2 separate regions of the Homo sapiens genome follow, and region 1 is linked to region 2. A link means that fine-mapping ties the variant in region 2 to the expression of a gene that starts in the linked region. Tissue or cell type: whole blood. Region 2 holds a variant in brackets; the other region holds the start of a gene. Each region is shown on its reference strand, or each on the opposite one. Region 1 holds the start of TMEM237 (transmembrane protein 237). Region 2 overlaps ZNF131 (zinc finger protein 131).

Evidence for each region. PIP is the estimated chance that this variant, and not a neighbour inherited with it, causes the effect. A credible set is the group of variants that fine-mapping cannot tell apart.
Region 1: it holds the start of TMEM237, and the variant in region 2 is the best candidate, but not a certain one, in a credible set for the expression of TMEM237 in whole blood (TOPMed, PIP 0.61).

Annotation. Positions count from the first base shown.
Region 1 is chr2:201,641,157-201,646,535 of GRCh38, reverse strand. TMEM237 (transmembrane protein 237) reads left to right here and starts at 3,033. Exons shown (of 13, transcript NM_001044385.3): 1 at 3,033-3,177. The coding sequence starts at 3,136. It overlaps MPP4 (MAGUK p55 scaffold protein 4), which reads left to right. Exons shown (of 22, transcript NM_033066.3): 22 at 1,132-1,662. The coding sequence ends at 1,326. RefSeq lists silencers at 2,915-3,174, 3,745-3,934.
Region 2 is chr5:43,149,064-43,154,437 of GRCh38, reverse strand. All of the region lies in intron 4 of ZNF131 (zinc finger protein 131), which reads right to left. Among named protein-coding and RNA genes, the nearest start is that of ZNF131, 31 kb to the right of the region's middle. The variant A/G (reference allele first, on the strand shown) is at 2,324.

The DNA of each region.
Region 1 (5,379 bases), not on the chromosome of region 2:
TTGTTTCTGGATCATATGTATGGTCACTTTGTAAAGCCACAAGATTTTGGTGCCTGCATTTGTGTTTCAGATTGTATTGGTGACAAGTTGTACTATTTTCATGAACTAATAAGAAAATAACAGCAATGAATTTAATGCATTAGTGCCAAGTGAATGCCAAATTACCTTCATTAAATGAACATTTCACAATAGTAGAAACATAATATAACTGGCTTATACCATCCTCATGTTGAAAGTGGCCATTTTGTATCTTTAATGTTATCCCTATCAGATTAATGTTCACTTGAAATTTATGTTTAAATTTTATTTAAACTGGTACATTTTCTTTGGTTTTATGTTGTATATGGTTAAAAAGTTTCAAGTGTTTAGGTAAGAGTAAGATAAGTTCACACGGGAAGTTGAGGGGAGTAATCTGTCTGCAAACTATGACTAAATTTTGCAAAACATGACGAGACATTAAGACTAAAGATTAAAACATAAGTTTTGTAGTTTAGAAGACATTTATTGGACCTCATTTTTTAAAATAAAAACTTCAGTCTTTTATTATTTAAAAAAACTTCCAAATTAAAATTTCTTTATCTCAGTAATACATTTCTAAGAAATAAAGGATGACATACTGTGGATAGTGATATACTTTTCCCAGCTTTGCTTATGCTTCACATTAATTTAGAAGGATATGTTTATACCTGTTATAATAATTATATTTTCTCTACAAAAATTAGCTGGGCATGATGGCATGTGCCTATAGTCCCAGCTACTTGGGAGGCCTAGGTGGGAGGATCACTTGAGCCTGGGAGGCAGAGGCTGCAGTGAGCTGAGATGATCCTACTGCATGCCAGCCTGGGACAGAGTGGGACCCTGTCTAAAAAAAAAAAAAATTATTTTATCTATACTTAGCCACATTATTTCAATAACAGAGGGCAAAAAAATTACTATTTTCTAGTTTGCTGGTTTTGTAGAATTTTGAAAAAATATTTTTGAAACTTTATTGAAAATCATCTGTGCAAAATTTTCGGACCTTACTGTTTTTATACATAGTTTCACAACTGAATGTGACAGCATAACAAACTGTATTTTTTCCATTTGTCCAATTAAGTCTGTACTATCCATATTTTTCTATTTCTCCTAAAGGATGAAGACCTACAAGAGATGGAAAATTTAGCCCAAAGAATGGAAACTCAGTTTGGCCAATTTTTTGATCATGTGATTGTGAATGACAGCTTGCACGATGCATGTGCCCAGTTGTTGTCTGCCATACAGAAGGCTCAGGAGGAGCCTCAGTGGGTACCAGCAACATGGATTTCCTCAGATACTGAGTCTCAATGAGACTTCTTGTTTAATGCTGGAGTTTTAACACTGTACCCTTGATACAGCGATCCATAGTTGCAATCTAAAACAACAGTATTTGACCCATTTTAATGTGTACAACTTTAAAAGTGCAGCAATTTATTAATTAATCTTATTTGAAAAAAATTTTTATTGTATGGTTATGTGGTTACCTATTTTAACTTAATTTTTTTTCCTTTACCTCATATGCAGCTGTGGTAGAAATATGAATAATGTTAAGTCACTGAGTATGAGAACCTTTCGCAGATTTCACATGATCTTTTTAAGATTTAAATAAAGAGCTTTCCTAAATAAAATAAGCAATAGTTAACTTTAGAAACTGTACTCTATGAAACGTGTTTTATGAAAACATCTTTTACAAAAAGTGCTTACTTGACTAACTCAGCAAGAAAGGTTTAATGTACACATTTCACATCTAAAATCAAAACCTACAAGAAACTGCACTGCCTTCACTATTTACAAATCGGCCTACAAGGAAAAAATTATTCTCATGAGAGGTGTGACAAACACTAATTTTCCTTAACAGCCAATATCTACATGCAGGCCTAAATTAGAAAAAGGCAATGGATTAATCCCAGAGACCTATATATAGAAAATCACAAGAGTGAAACCGTGTCTCAGAGTTAAAGAAACCAGGGACTAACAGAAATTCTTGAGCATGCAGGACGGCAGATAAAAAACAACTTGCTAAATAAAACGCCTAAACTTCTTCCATTGTGAGATTAAAAAACAAAACAAAACAAAACAAAGCAAACTGGCTGAAAGTGGTTAGTACTAACACGGATGGCTACCTGGAGTCTGTACAAAATGAGCTTGCTGGCGTCACAGCTTGAATCTTTCCCCATGTTTCACACTGACTCCCTCCAAAATTTGCACATGCGACCCATGAAGGGACATGAAGAGGTAACTGCGAACGCCAGAGGATTTTCCAGATGGCTTCTTTCCTTCCACCAATCACCTACTAATCCCAGAATCCACCCCCTAAACGTTTTCTAATAAAAATACTGTCTTAAAGCCAACACAGGGAGACAGATTAGAGCTATACTCCTGTCTCCTTGTTAGCTGACTCACAATGAAAACTTTTCTCAAAAAATCAGCGCCATAATATTGGCTTCTGTGCGTATAGGGCAACAAGCCCCGTTTGTTTGGTAACAAGATTAGGATGCCATTACAAAGTGCTGTTTCTCTTTCTTTCCCCAGATTTGAGATTTCCAGGCGCTTTCCCTGTCCCTGTATCTGTTCATCTTCTGCATCATTCTCTTCTCCATATCCACACCATTCTTCCATCTTTCCCATTTCTTTCTTAACTGTAAAACAGAATGCATGATTCAAAATATTTGTAGTTCTCTGTTACTTAAAGTGAAAGTTATCTTTAAAAAAAAACAAACCCAACCAAACCAAACGATGCAAATCAGGTAGTTTGTAGTGATATTTATGTGAGGTTGGATTTGATTTTAAGGTTGAGAAAAAGTTTTTCCAAATTTGATTTACACAGTTGTGGGATGAAGGGTAAGCAATCGGAGAAAATGTGAGAATTGCCTATATTAATACACATCCACACACCCAGGCCTGCACAGACTCGTTGGTCCTGGAGAGTAAACGCATTCCTCCCAAACCCAGCAGCGCCTGGCAGGACAGAGGCGGGCGGGGACCTGGCTCAGGGGGCGGCTGCCTCGCCAGGCGCCACGAAGCCCCGGCGTCCCACAGGTCCCGGAGGCCGCTGCGTCGCGGGGAGCTGGGCTCGGGCCGCCGGCGGTTGCGCCGGGGCAGCCCCGCGGGGAGAGCACCATGAGGACTGACTCGGGGGCTCGGCTGGAGGAGGGCCACCTGGTGAGCGGCGAGGGGCGCGTCGGCCTCGAGAGGTGGCGGGTAAACAGCTACACTTGGCAGTGGGGGTGGGTGTGTGTGGGGGGGCGCCAACGAGCTGGGAATCACTAAGGGAGGGCCTTGCTCGTGGGGTGCGCGCATCCGCCCCTCCAGTGTTCACAGGAATGGGACGGAGACGCAGGCGAGGCCGGGACCGAACTCCCGGAGTGGGAGAGAGAGGCCTGGCATGAAGTTTGCGGGGACCTGAGCCCGCGTTGCCACGACGACGCCTCACTCATCTGAGGCCCGGGGCCCGGCGGGTGCCGGGGCTTCCAGCCAGGCCTCTCCTAGACTCCTCCGAGGAGAGGTCTGTAGCTGCCCAGAAGAGATCTGTTCGCCTGCGGAGTCCTTTAATTAAGGTCTTCCGTCACGCCCCGCTTCCCGCAAACAAATCACCGCCACCACTTAGGAAACCACGGGAAAGCTGTGATTGCAGCGCCACGGTCGCCAGATTTCTGCTCCTGGGCACATTACCCCCAACTCCGAGGCCCCCTTTTTGGCAGGGCTAGTCTGGACTGGCCAATCCAGGTCCCTGCACGCCTCTCACCGCAACATCCCCGCAGGGCGCTGCGCGCGGGGTACTAGCCAGGCGGCGCGGCCCGATGACGCATTGCGCCTGCGCGCGCGACCGAGCCGGGAGGGGTGGGGCGCCAGGTGCTTGGGGGCCGGCGGCCGCCGAGGCCGGCTAAACGCAGAATGGGGAAGAATCCTGTGGTAAGCGAGCCTTAGCTACTTTTAATTGTTAGGATTTTTGTCTTCAGTTGAGCCGTCCTACTTTTGAGGATTAGAGGTTGGGTCTCTGGGTGGGTGGAACGTCATTTTTGCGGGACTTTTGAAATCAGTTACGTGAACAGAGCCCTGGGATCGATCGCGCGCGCTTCGTAGCATCTTTAGAACAATAGCGCGTTCCTGTGACTGTCATTCTTCTCCAATTGTAATTTTGACTACTGGATGGTATTACGGCAGCTTGCCTCGTCCTAATCTTGTAGTACTTGCATTAATCTACTGTTCGAACGAATGGATTGCTAAATGGGACAAACTACAAGAGTGTCTAAAATTTAACCCTTTTGAATAAATGTCTTATGCAAGCAGCATGAGATACTTGGAACATTAAATTGGCTTCTAGGCATTTCTGTTACTATATGATTCTAAAATACTTCTCAACTGTAATGCTGTCTGAACTACAAACACTTTTCTTATTCATGTAAATGAGGGTTTAGAAGGGTTCCCCCCACCTTTCTTTCTGCCCTAAAACGCATTCTTCCCAGTGTATGCAACTGGCCTTTTTAAAAATTGTGTTAGTATGTGGTTTAAAACCTCCATTTGTTTCCCATTGAATTAAAACAAAATCCAAACTTCCCTTGGTCTGCAAGGCCCTAACTAATCTGGCTCCTGCCTACCTCTCCTTGGTAATTGTGCGGCAGCCTTGCTGTCCTTTTACCTGAAACATTCCAAGCCCAATTTAACCTAAAAATATTTGCATTTGTTCCGGTTGCTGCTTTCTCATTCAGGTCTCAGCTCAAACTCAGAGAAACTTTCCCTAACAAAAGTAGCACTCAGTCTCCTTCATTCATTACGTTTTGTGTGTGTGTATCTTGTGTATATATATATATATGCACACACGATATGTATACAAGATATGTCTTAAATATAGCATATAAATATATTTTATCGTACATGCTGCATATAATATATAGTATATATTATCATATATATATTTTTAACATTGTTTCTAATACTCAACCACTAGAATGTAAGTTTCATAAGAGCAGAGTTCTCTCCATTGTGTTCATTAGTGTATTCCTAATGCTTAGAAAAGGGCCTGGCCTAGAGATGGAAAGGAATGTAGGAAGGAAGGAATTTTATATGAAATTTAGGATGGGAGAACAAATTTTAAATTGCCCATGTTTCTCATCAGTACCTCCCAGGTTTCACTGATGAACAAGATTATCAAGAGATTTGAAGATCCTAGTCTGATCCATTATATTTTTCTGTCATGTCTGAACAACAGACTTTTGAAAGAATTGCTTTGGCCGGGCGTAGTGGCTCACTCCTATAATCCCACCACTTTCAGAGGCCAAGGTGGGCGGATTTCCTGAGGTCAGGAGTTCAAGACCAGCCTGGCCAACATGGTGAAACCCCGTCTCTACTAAAAATACAAAAATT
Region 2 (5,374 bases):
CTGACACTTCTTTTTTTTTTTTTGGAGACGGAGTCTCGCTCTGGAGCCCAGGCTGGAGTGCAGTGGCGCAATCTCAGCTCACAGCAACCTCCACCTCCCTGGTTCAAGTAATTCCCCTGCCTCAGCCTCCCAAGTAGCTGAGATTACAGGTGCACGCCACCACGCCTGGCTAACGTTTTTGTATTTTTAGTAGAGACAGGATTTCACCACGTTGGTCAGACTGGTCTCAAACTCCTGACCTCAGACAATCTGCCCACCTCAGCCTCCCAAAATGCTGGGATTACAGGTGTGAGCCACCCCGCCCCACCATGCTGACACTTCTTTAGGTTACACTGTTGCTGTTCCAGTTTCATCAGCTGGTTCTGGACACACTACTGTGGCTCTTGAAACTAATCTATGTCTTATGTTCACCTTTCTATACCATCTGCAGTCTGATAATGGTTCAGCTTTATCACATACACAAAAATGACCACAAAAGCTAATCAATAACAGTCAAGGTACTGATGGATGTTTCATGCTACCATCCATAGATACTGAGTAGCTTGTTGAGTATGGCGACAGCTTTCTCAAACAATGACTCAAAATGATTTCTGACTCTACTTCCCTCACCTCCTCTTTGTCCAAAAATCTGAGTAAAGCAGTTTGATCACTGAATTTAGCTGTCCCTAGAAAGGGATCATGTCTTCTTGGCTACTTCGTGGATAATGATGAAGACAGAAGGGGAGGGAAGTAATATAAACCCAATCTGAAAAAGCAGGATTCTGTGCCCTGAATTTTTGTTTGTTTGTTTGTTTTTGAGATGGAGTTTCGCTCTTGTTGCCCAGGTTAGAATGCAATGGCACGATCTCGCTTACTGCAAACTCCACCTCCCAGGTTCAAGTGATTCTCCTGCCTCAGCCTAAGTAGCTGAGATCACAGGCATGTGCCACCAGGCCCAGCTAATTTTGCTTTTTTTTTTTTTTTTTTTTTTTTTTAGTAGAGATGGGAGTTCACCATGTTGGTCAGGGCTGGTCTCCAACTCCTGACCTTAGGTGATCTGCCCACCTCAGCCTCCCAAAGTGCTGGGATTACAGGCGTTAACCACCGCGCCTGGCCCGCCCTGAACATTCTTAAACATTTTCTTTTCCCCCAACAATAATCCTGGAATAGCCTGGTACCTCTTAAAGGTGACAGCCTGGCCAAAGCCAGGGTTAGGAAATTCGAACTTCATTCTAGTTCAGCCATCTGGATTCTCTTAATGGAGTGACATCATCTTATAGGAATACTGACCACTTGATTGAATTCACTGCTTGCCAAGTACACTCACTTATAATAGCCCATGTGAGCCAAAGTGGGAAACATAATGGGTCTCTAAGTTTTAAATGTCCTTGCCCTTCTTGTACCTGACCTTACCAGATGAAAGGTCTGCATAAGAGGAGGGGATGACTGGAAAAGAGGTGAAGGAGGAATGACAATCTTGCCATCTAGGGAGAGAAACATCTTACGACTCCAGAAGATATAGGGCAGGGAGGGACAATAATCTTTGTCAAGCTGGGTGTGGTGGCTCACACCTATAATACCAGCACTTTGGGAGGCTGAGGCGGGAGGATCGCTTGAGTCCGGGAGTTTAAGAACAGCCTGGAGAACATAGTAAGACCCCATCTCCACAAAAAATTATAAAAGATTAGCTGGGCATGGTGGCACATGTCTACAGTCTCAGCTCCTTTGGGAGGCTGAGGTGGGAGGATCATCTGAGCCTGGAAAGTTACAGCTGCAGTGAGCTGTGATTGCACCACTGCACTCCAGCCTGGGTGACACAGTGAGACCCTGTCTCCAAAAACAAAACAAAACAAACCACCTTTGTCTTTCAGAACTGCCCCTAGAACCTTTCAAATTAAGAAAAATGCTCAGTTGCAGGTCTCTCCAATGGCTATAAGCATTTTTAAACTGACTGCTGTGTTTGCCATTCCCTGCCAAGTGGTTTCCCTTAACTTTACCAACATATCTTCTAAAAACAGCTGGGGATGACTCCTGTGTGTCGCAGGCAAAACACCATGCTCCACTACCATTCTCATAGCTGAGATCAGTCCATGAGGTGGACAGTTACTACTCAAGTCAGCTGGCATTCAGGAGCTTGTGATAAATAGGACAGACTCGGCTGGGAGTGGTGGCTCACACCTGTAATCCCAGCACTTTGGGATGCTGAAGCAGGCGGATCACTTGAGGTCGGGAGTTCGAGACCAGCCTGGCCAACGTGGTGAAACTCCGTCTCCACTAAAAACACAAAAGTTAGCTCAACCTAGTGGCACGTGCCTGTAGTCCCAGCTACCGGGGAATCTGAGGC[A/G]GGAGAATCACTTGAACCTGGGAGGTAGAGGCAGTGAGCCAAGATCATGTCACTGCACTCCAGCCTGGGCGACAGAGCGGGACTCCATCTCAATAAATAAATAAATAAATAAATAGGAAAGAAGTCAACTGACTGTCCTGTCCTCAGTCTCTCCAAAAACTAGAACTAGACTGAATCATTCTAATTGAACTGGGAAAGGAGACTACATTGGAGGCTATATCAATCTGTGCCTCTACACTGATGCAGGTTCGTGCCTACTTTGGAGGCACGAACAATTGCAAATAGTACTTTCCTTTCAGGGTTCCTATGTGCCCCTGGGACTGTGCTTCTTGTGTGGAAGCCAGGTACTAATTTCCTTGCCTCACAAAAATACGATGACTGGCAAGGCGCGGTGGCTCGTCCCTGTAATCCCAGCACTTTGGGACTCCGAGGCAGGTGTGTTACTTGAGGTCGGGAGTTGGAGACCCGTCTGGCCAACATGGAGAAACCTCATTTCTGCCAAAAATACAAAAATTAGCAGGGTGAGGTGGCAGGTGCCTGTAATCCCAGCTACTAGGGAGGCTGAGGCAGGAGTATTGCTTGAGCCCAGAAGGCAGAGGTTGCAGCGAACTGAGATTGCGTCACTGCACTCCAGCCTGGGCACAGAGTGAGACTCCGTCTCAAAAAAACAAAACAAAACGAAACAAAATGACGACTTACACCTAAGAGGTGGTTATAAGAGACCATCAAGTGTTTAAGGAAGATCAAGCAGCCCTCGGGTGACTGTGGAGGTCTCATTTAAGGATACTCTTGGTTAGAAATTCTCAAAGGGATGCTTCCTAGAATAATAACTGACTTATTTATGCACATCCCGTGGGCAGTTTTCCCTAATAGGAGTAATCCAATTAAAAAAGTGGTACAACATTGTGCATGACTTAAGCTGATATGTTCACTGATATCACTTGGGCTCTGGAAGGCATTTATGTCAGCTTCAAGCCACTGGGGCCAGGTTTATTATGAATGAAAAACTTGCCCTAGTAGACATCCTCCCTATGGGACAATGTGGAGCCTGTATAATTGTAAAGCATCTTGCTATACTTAGACTAATGCCCAGGGCTAAGTGGAAAAGTCAATACAGAAACCGAAAAAGAAAGTCACCTGTTTTTCTAGGGATTTGTTCAGTTGGCTGAGTCCAGAATGAACCTTAGTGTGGTGGGTGCATGATTAAGGTCAACACGGCAGGGTGCCCAAATCCTGCTGCTTGAAGTTCTGTTGACTTCAATAAATCCTTAAATAAATCCAGTAGGAGAAAAACTGAATGGATTAGGTCCTGGTCCCTGTGTTTTTTGTTTGTTTTTGGGACAGAGTTTCACTCTTGTTGCCCAAGCCAGAGTGCAATGGCGCGATCTCAGTTCACTGCAGCCTCAGCAATTCTCCTGCCTCAGCCTCCTGAGTAGCTGGGATTACAGGCATGTGTCACCGTGCCCAGCTAATTTTTTTGTATTTTTAGTAGAAATGGGGTTCCACCACGTTAGCCAGGCTGGTCTCGAACTCCTGACCTCAGATGATCCGCCCGCCTCGGCCTCCCAAAGTGCTGGGATTACAGGCATGAGCCACCGCACCCAGCCAGGTCCTGGTCCCTACGGTCAGATTAATCAGAGCGGCTAAAGAAGTGCTGTACTTATGGGGAAAATTCAGTACCAGCCAGGATAATACAGAAACAAGGATATGGAACAAGACAACTCTCCATGGATACTCATAATGTTTCTGCATGTCTTATAAACAAAGACATTGAGAGCCTTTTATTTTGGACTATCTTTTCAAAGTTGTCTGTACAGCAAAGGACTTTGGAAAACAGAGCCTGTCCTCTTCCAGAGTGGAGAGTAGGTTTATTTATTGTCCAGTATAATAATGTTTCCTCTACAGCAAAGGTTAGGCAGGTTTGCTTGCAGCTCATTATAGAAGATTTGGGTTTCCTAAAGCTCAGAATTCCTCAACTGTGATGCAAACAACTGTGAGCACGGTACACACCTAGGCCACTGTGTCACCCCTGTGGGACTAGGGGGACAGGGAACAAGAAACACTGATACAAACATGGAACTCATGCTGCTTTCTTTGCTCTAAGTAATCAAGCCCTTTTCTGGACTCAAGAGTCTCATGTCTCTTGCCGGCATCCATGAAACTGTTAGCTAAAAAGTTACTACCTTGCAAACAGGATAAAATCTCAGACCCCCACAATGCTGCCCCCTTCTTGACAATAATCCCATTTTAAAAAACAGGCAAAAGATTTGATCAGGCACCTTGCCAAAGAATACAAACAGATGGCAAAAAAGCCGATTAAAAAATATCCAACACCATTAGTCATTAGAGAAATGCAAATTTAAATCACCATATACCCACCAGCCCAGCTAAAATAAAAAAAAGCCTGACCATATCAAGTATTCACAAGGCTGTGAAAAACTGGAGCATTCATAGGCTGCAGAATGGAATGTAAAATGGCACAACCATTTTTGAAAAAGAGACTGACAGTATCTTAGAATATTAAACATATACTTACCATACAAGCCAGCTATTCTACTAAGAGGTATCTACCAAGAAAAATGAAAGCGTATGTCCAAAAACTTGTTACACAAACGTTCATAACCACTTTATTTCTAATAGCCAAAAACTTGAAACAACCTAAATGTCCATCAACAGGTGAATCAACAAATGGTGATACATCCATACAATGGAATACTCAGCAGGAAAAAGGAATGAACTACTTATACACACACTAATATACGTGAATTTCTTTCTTTTTTGATCCACCCGCCTTGGCCGCCCAAAGTGCCAAGATTATAGGCGTGAGCCACCGTGCCCAGCCTTTTTTTTTTTTCTCCCTCTGTCTCCCAGGCTGGAGTGCAATGGCACGATCTCGGCTCACTGCAGCCTCTGCCTCCCAGGTTCAAGCGATTCTCCCCCCTCAGCCTCCCGAGTAGCTGGGATTACAGGCATCCGCCATTATGCCCAGCTAATTTTTGTACAGACGGGGTTTCGCCATGTTGGCCAGGCTGGTCTTGAACTCCTGACCTC